Linked DNA regions of Homo sapiens. The protein of the gene in region 1 interacts with the protein of each later gene in a biochemical or structural test. Each region holds a gene or a part of one and is shown in the gene's direction. Other genes may lie near its edges.

Region 1 (3,197 bases):
CCCACCTGCAACTGACTTCTTCCTGCCTGTGACAGACTCTGCCCCTGCCTGCGACTGAGTCTGTCCCTTCCTGCAACTGAGTCCATCCCGCCTGTGACTCTGTCCTCGCCTGTGACTGACTCTGCCCCTGCCCTGTGACTGTCTCACCTGTGACTGACTCCGTCCTGCCTGTGACTCAGCCTCTTACTGACTCTACCCCTGCCTGTGACTGACTCTGCCCTCTCCTGTGACTGACTCTGTCCCCACCTGTGACTGACTCTGTCCCCACCTGTGACTGACTGTCCTCCTGCAACTGACTCTGTCCCCGCCTATGAATGTCTTTCATGTGACCTGCCTCAGGCCCAGAGGGCAGTGAGTGTTTCGCGATTGCTGCTGGTACCTGGCTGTGCCGGGGTATGAATGAGACTCAGGCCCCCTCCCTTGTCCCCTCTTTGTGGAACTCTGGGCGAGAGGGCTGGCGTGCTTGCCCACTGCCTGTTCCTAGGTGCCAGCAGAACGTCCCTGCTGGGTGGCTCTTGTCCTGCCTGGAGAGGTTGCGTGGCCGGGGAGAGGGCGGCGGGCGACGGAGCCACTCTGTGCCTGTGGTCCTGGTGCTGGAGGCCGGGGTGAGAAGGCGCAGGCTTCTTGTCTCCACCGAGGCCTCAGTGGGGCTGTTTAGCTGTCGAGTGCAGCACTTCCTGTGCCTCGAAAGACAGCCCCGTGTAGTCAGCATGGCGCCCACATAGCCAGAAGGGCACGCAGCCCAGGGCAGAGTGGCCACAGGGGGCTGGGCTCACCCCGGCTGCCCTGAGTGGCCCCCAACCCTTCCTTGACCCGATGCTCAGACAGTGCTACAAGGAGGACGGCAGCTCCAAGAGCCCTGACTGCCCTGTGTGCAGCCGCTCCCTGAACAAGCTGGCGCAGCCCCTGCCCATGGCCCACTGTGCCAACTCCCGCCTGGTCTGCAAGATTTCTGGCGACGTGATGAACGAGAACAATCCGCCCATGATGCTGCCCAACGGCTACGTCTACGGCTACAATGTGAGGGGGGCAGGGCAGGGGGGCCAGGCTGGCACGCATCGCCATCGGGACAGGGCTGTGTGGGACGGGCAGGGCAGGGGGGCCAGGCTGGCACGCATCGCCATCGGGACAGGGCTGTGTGGGACGGGCAGGGCGGGGGGCCAGGCTGGCACGCGTCGCCATCGGGACAGGGCTGTGTGGGGCGGGCAGGGCAGCGGGGCCAGGCTGGCACACGTCGCCATTGGGACAGGGCTGTCCTCTCGCCCCACCCTGCCTTAGCTTCGTTCGAAATGGATGAAGGGGTGGGAAGGACAGGCGAGGTGGCCCCGGGATTTCTTTGGCAGGTGTGCCTTCGGGAAGGAACTTTGCCTGAGAGGATGAGTCATTCCCTGGTGGTTCATTGTGGGGATTTTCCATGGAAATCCGTGTGTACGTTGTAGTCGCTTGCCTTAATGCATTCCCGGTTTTATTTTTCAGTCTCTGCTTTCTATCCGTCAAGATGATAAAGTCGTGTGCCCGAGAACCAAAGAAGTCTTCCACTTCTCACAAGCCGAGAAGGTGTACATCATGTAGGCCCCACGTCGTGAAGCGCACGCCTCGGGGACGGGCTGCAGTGGGCGGGGAGGCCACGCCTTCCTCCTGTCCCACGCTCCAGCCTGCCGCGGCGTTTCTGTTTCTTGCGACCAAAGATCCGTGAGCAACGATAAATACTCTTAGGAAGAGAGAAAATAAGGTTTCATAAGTTTGTACTTGAAAACATTTGGATTGGTAGGATTTTGTAACACGTCAACCATTTGATGCTTCTGAAAAGTACTTTCAACTTGCGAAGGAAACTCTTCTTTAAAGACTGACCTAAACACCGAGGGAAACTTAAGAACGTTTAAAATATAGGAGTCCGTGATTTCCCTGTGTTTTCAGTTTCTTTCCTTCTGTGAACGATGAGACTTGGAGAACGGGCTGGTCCTTCACCACTTCCTGTTGGCCCTGGCCTGGCCGGGGAAGGTGGCAGCGGCACCGGACTGACCTGCAGTGACCCGCGATGCCGCGCCACGAGGGACACTTATGGCTTCATTCGAGAGCTGCTGCCAAAACGCCTGGCGCCGCCACCGTCGGGGGCTGGCTTCGAGGACGCCCGCCTGCCTCGCGGGTCGTGTCCGCGGGACTGTGTTCGTACGTGCATAGTTTCGATATCACATCGCGGGGCTGTGTTCGTAGCTGCGTCGTTTCGATATCACACCCTCTGTGTGCCGCCTTACTTCCTGCTTCGAGAATGTATAACGTGGAAATCCACGGGACCAAATTTCTGCAGAGGCCTTGCCGGATGGTTCCATAACTGTAGAGTCTAATTGCTATCCATTACAGAAATTAATCGTTCAGTTGAAAGAAGTACTGATGACTTTTCAAAACAAATGAACCACCGTAGCTGACAGAGAACCGTATCGTAGAGGTTTGTAGTTAGTGCTTATTTTTGCATGTTGATGTTGACTAGCTAATAAACTGTAAATGTAAACCATGCGAATAAAATGGTTTTCTATTTCTCATTTCCGTGTGAGCCGAGGCTGCCGTGCGTTTCTAACACCGAGGTTGTGTTCTGCTCCTCCCCGGGGCCCGGGCAGCATGGCGGGCATATGCGTAGCTTCTGGCACCACGGCCACCGGGAGTTGAGAAGCCGGCTGGAGGCCACTCCTGCCCGGACCGCAGTCCTCCTCTCGGGCGCTGCCCTGAGGCGTGATGGCCCCAGCGTCTTGAGGCCCCGGCTTGCAGCTGGGTGAATCAGACACTGGTTCCTGGGACCCACGGGCCATTGTCTGTTGGGGGTGGGGGCTCAGGCTGCAGCCACCAGCAAGCCTGGGCCTGCGGCTTGGGCTGAGTCTAGGGTTGGGCTAAGGAGGCCTGCGGGCTGTGGCCACTGGCCCTTCCCCCCACCGCCCACCCCTGTTCTCTCCAGTGCCCCGTCGCAGCTCCTGTGGCCAGCCTGGTGCCCCTTAGCCCATCTCTTACCCCATGGTGGCTGCCCTGGCCCCTCCACAGCACCCAGCTGGAACCCACCACATTCCCACGTGCTCTTCTTTGGAGCGCCCGTCCCCAGGTCCCCTCGGCCGAAGCAGACCCTGTGGCCCCACTGCCACGCAGCCGCCCCGGCCTCCACCGTCCTCACGTGCAGGGGCTTTCCTTGTCTTGCGTCCTGTTCTTTCCTT
Region 2 (3,823 bases), on another chromosome or scaffold:
CTATCAGGAGAATATAATGTTTATCAGTAATGAAAGATCTAAGGTTGAAAGTAGTGATTTATAAGTATTATCACCTTTTCCCAATACTGAAATTGTTTCCAGTACTGAAATACTTTTATTGTTCTCTGGATACTTTTTGCTGCTAATTAACATCTCTTTTTACAGGATTCATGAATAAAATTTTCCATCCCAACATTGATGAAGCGTAAGTAACTATTTTAAAATGTTTCAATTTTAGCAGCAACTGCTCATGATTAGTGTTTCTCTGTGTTATAAAAAGCCTCGGTTATCTTTTTGGACCTTATCAGGAGGTAGGACTGTATGAATGGTCATGTAAATGATAGAATCCAAAGGATATGAGGTTCTCAATCACTTAGTTCACATTCTGCTGTTGTACCACTTATTTTTTTCCATTGTCGTGACTGGGTCCTTCATTTTTCTTGTTACCCAGCAAACAGTAGTAATATTCCACATCTCACTTCTCTTTTTGTAGACACAGTTCAGAGATCTGTTTTCAGCCTACAGATAGACTATTTTCAGATCTTATAATATTTTCTCAATTCTTGATAGATAGTAAGGCAAAATGACTATAGTTTCATTTCAGTTAATGAATCTTATTTATCCCCTTCTTTCCTTCTAATATTTTATTAATGATACTTTAAAATATTCCAGCATATCCTGTTTTATACTTCTAGTGCTGTTTAGAATATATTATTGTTTGGGATGCAATTTTAATTTGTCATGGCACTAAGTTTTACTGTCTCTCACAAACATACCTAACAGGTTTTTCTGCACTCTGTGTGAGTAGGTTGTATATATACATACATCATGCCCCTTAGTCCTTTAATATTAATATTTTATTGTATCAGTTATCCTAACAAGGATATTCTCTTATCTATCCACAGTATATAGTTGTCAGATTCAGGAATTTAACGTTAATGCAATACTTATTTAATCTACTGCCATATTCCAGTAACTTACTTTTTAGCACTTTTTTCTTTCAATAAAGGATCCAGTCTAGAATCACACATTACATTTAGTTGTCATGTTTCTTTAAACTGCTTTAATCAGGATTAGTTCCTCAGCCTGCCTTTATCTTTTATAAAATTCACTTTTTAAAATAACATAGACCAGTTATTTTATAGATTGTTCCTCAATTTGTGTTTGTCTGATGTTTCCTGATCATTAGATTCAGGGCATGAACACACTTAAGGCCAGAAAACTACAAAGTAAGATGGTGTCCTTCTTGGGGTATCACATTCAGAGACACACAAGGTCTGTCTGCCCCTTGTGTTCTCAGCACCTGGTTCAGGTGTTGTCTGGTTTCTCCATTGCATAGTTACTATTTTCCCCTTTCAGTCTGTAAGGTGACACTTCAAGACCTGGTACTATTCTGTTCCTCATCATACTTTTCCCCAATTGGGATTCTTTTTTTCACAGATCTATTAGAAGTATTTCTCTTGATAAGTAAAAATTAGTTGCCAGATACATGCAACTAACTTTCTAATTTTTAAAAACATGCCATTCTTTCCATCTGTTTCAGGTCAGGAACTGTGTGTCTAGATGTAATTAATCAAACTTGGACAGCTCTCTATGGTGAGTTTGGCCATGGAATATTTTTTGGAGATGTTGAGACATTGCCTAAAAAAATGTTGTTTGGCTTTTCTTTTCTGGTTTAAGATGTTTTGTTGGTAATGGGAAGGGATTTTTGAGGGACCGACTGGGAAAGTTTGATCAGTGGAAAAAATGTTTTCTCTTAAGTACAAATATATCAGTTTAGCTGTGGAAGTTTAAAATGATTTTTTGAGATTCCAAACTTAAGGTATAGTGATACATGTGCACACACATGAGTACATGCGCACACACATGAATACATGTGCAAACATTTTATATGTATGTATTAGCACATAATATATACATATTTTGGTTTTGGAAAAAACTAAAACTACTTAGGAATGTCCCTCTGAAATGAGAGAGCAATGATATAGTAAGAGGTTTTAGGGGATCATCTTTTCAAAGACCAAAACCTCCTTATGAAGGAAGAGTAATTTAGCCTTACCTTCAGTGCTGAAATTGACACCCCATCTCTTACAGGGAATCAACAAATGAATTGCCCAGCTCTGCAAAATGCTATGCTGAATATCCCAGAGAGTTATAAAGAGCATCAGGCCTTTCCTCCTTATCACCTGGTTGGGGAGCTGAAAATATGTTAAAATACAGTCATCTCTTGGTATCTGCAGGGGATCAGTTCCCAGACCACCTGCAGATACCAAAATTCATGCTTACTCAAGTCCCACAGTCATCCCTGTGAAACCCACTGACATGGAGGGCTAGCTGTATTTATTGAAAACCACATGTGAATGGACCCATGCAGTTCAAACTGTGTGTGGACCCATGTTGTTCAAGGGTCAGTTGTGTATTTGAAGTTAATTAGGGATACAACAAATAAATCTGTTTTTCCCTCCACATGTCCAAATCTCAGGCTTCATAGAGTCTACCTACTCCAGTGCTCCTACCCCGTATACTTCCGCTGATTCTCCAGCTGGAAGTAATCTCTGGATACCATTACATTTTATAGCTCCTTTTTTATGGTCCACTTTTACTTTCTACTGTGTATTTGTTGTTTATGCCTATTTTTTTGTGCTACTAGATTATTTCCTATCTTAAGGGCTATCGGGTGTGTGTCTGATTCATCTGTAAGGCCCAGGACTCTTATCACAGTGCCCTTCACCAGTATGGGTTGAAAGAATGAATGGTACAGGTAACCATTGCTGAGAGGCACAAGAAAAGAAGGGAAAGCTCAGTTGAGGCTGAGCTTAACCAGGGATGGCTGCTTCTTGTTGAACTTGTACGACCTTTTAGTGGTCTGAGGTAGGTAAGACTTCTTAGTCCAGCCACAATCTGCAAGTTACTTTTGCCAGATATCCTTGAACTAGATTGGTAAATGAGAATCACAGAGAAAGGTTGGTCACCAGCAGAACACAGTTAATCCCTGCCTCCACCTGATTGTGCCGTTCAAAAATTATTTTCTCTACCTGGGATATTCCCCCCTGATCTTTGTGTGGTTAGCACCTTCTTCACTCATCTCACATATTACTTCCTCAGAGCAGTTTCCTTTCCCAGCTACTCCATCTGAAATCACACCCCTCCATAGCACAGCACCCAGTTGTATATATATTTTTTAATTTTAAAATTATTTTTTAATACATAGAAACAGAGTTGCACTCTGTTGCCCAGGCTGGAATGCAGTGGTGCGATAATAGCTCACTGCAGCCTTGAGCTCCTAGGCTCGAACAGTCCTCCCATCTCAGCCTCCCCAGTAGCTGGGACTATAGGTGCATACTACCATGCCTGGCTAGTACCCCGTTTTCAATAAGCTTCTAAAACTGGTATTTGTATATTATTTATCTTATCCCCTTGGATTGTAAGCACCATGAGTGAGGACTTTGTCTTGTTCTCGTCTCTCTCTCTCTATACACACGCACACGCACACGTGACTGTAACAGTGCCTGGTGCACAATAAGGGTTCGACTATTTGTTGTCTTAATGAGTGAATTAATCATGTCCAGAACTGTTTAACAAGAGAGTTTTAGGGGAGATGATGGCATATAGTTGAGGCAACAAGAAAGAACATACACTCCGAGCTTGATTAAATGGATTCCTTTTAAGATGGTTTTTTTGGTAAAAATGTCTCATGGCAGGCTGCCTGGAATATCTGATGTAATGATGTGTTTTCTTAAACTACATTCACATCTTAAAAATGTACATATCAAAATACTGCAATCTGGTTCCAATTACAATGAAGTAAATTGATGTTTAGTTT

What was found.
Region 2: of the proteins of MAEA (region 1) and UBE2H, one has a biochemical effect on the other in vitro, tested with the Homo sapiens proteins (one study listed by BioGRID).

The regions. Positions count from the first base shown.
Region 1 is NC_000004.12:1,337,598-1,340,794, forward strand, and holds the end of MAEA (E3 ubiquitin-protein transferase MAEA), read left to right. Parts: intron 1-824; coding exon 825-1,020; coding exon of another isoform or gene 1,021-1,278; exon of another isoform or gene 1,279-1,470; intron 1,471-1,476; coding exon 1,477-1,572; 3' UTR 1,573-2,540; downstream 2,541-3,197.
Region 2 is NC_000007.14:129,855,284-129,859,106, reverse strand, and holds part of UBE2H (ubiquitin-conjugating enzyme E2 H), read left to right. Parts: intron 1-165; coding exon 166-205; intron 206-1,543; coding exon 1,544-1,596; intron 1,597-3,823. UniProt on the Homo sapiens protein: Accepts ubiquitin from the E1 complex and catalyzes its covalent attachment to other proteins. E2 ubiquitin conjugating enzyme that transfers ubiquitin to MAEA, a core component of the CTLH E3 ubiquitin-protein ligase complex.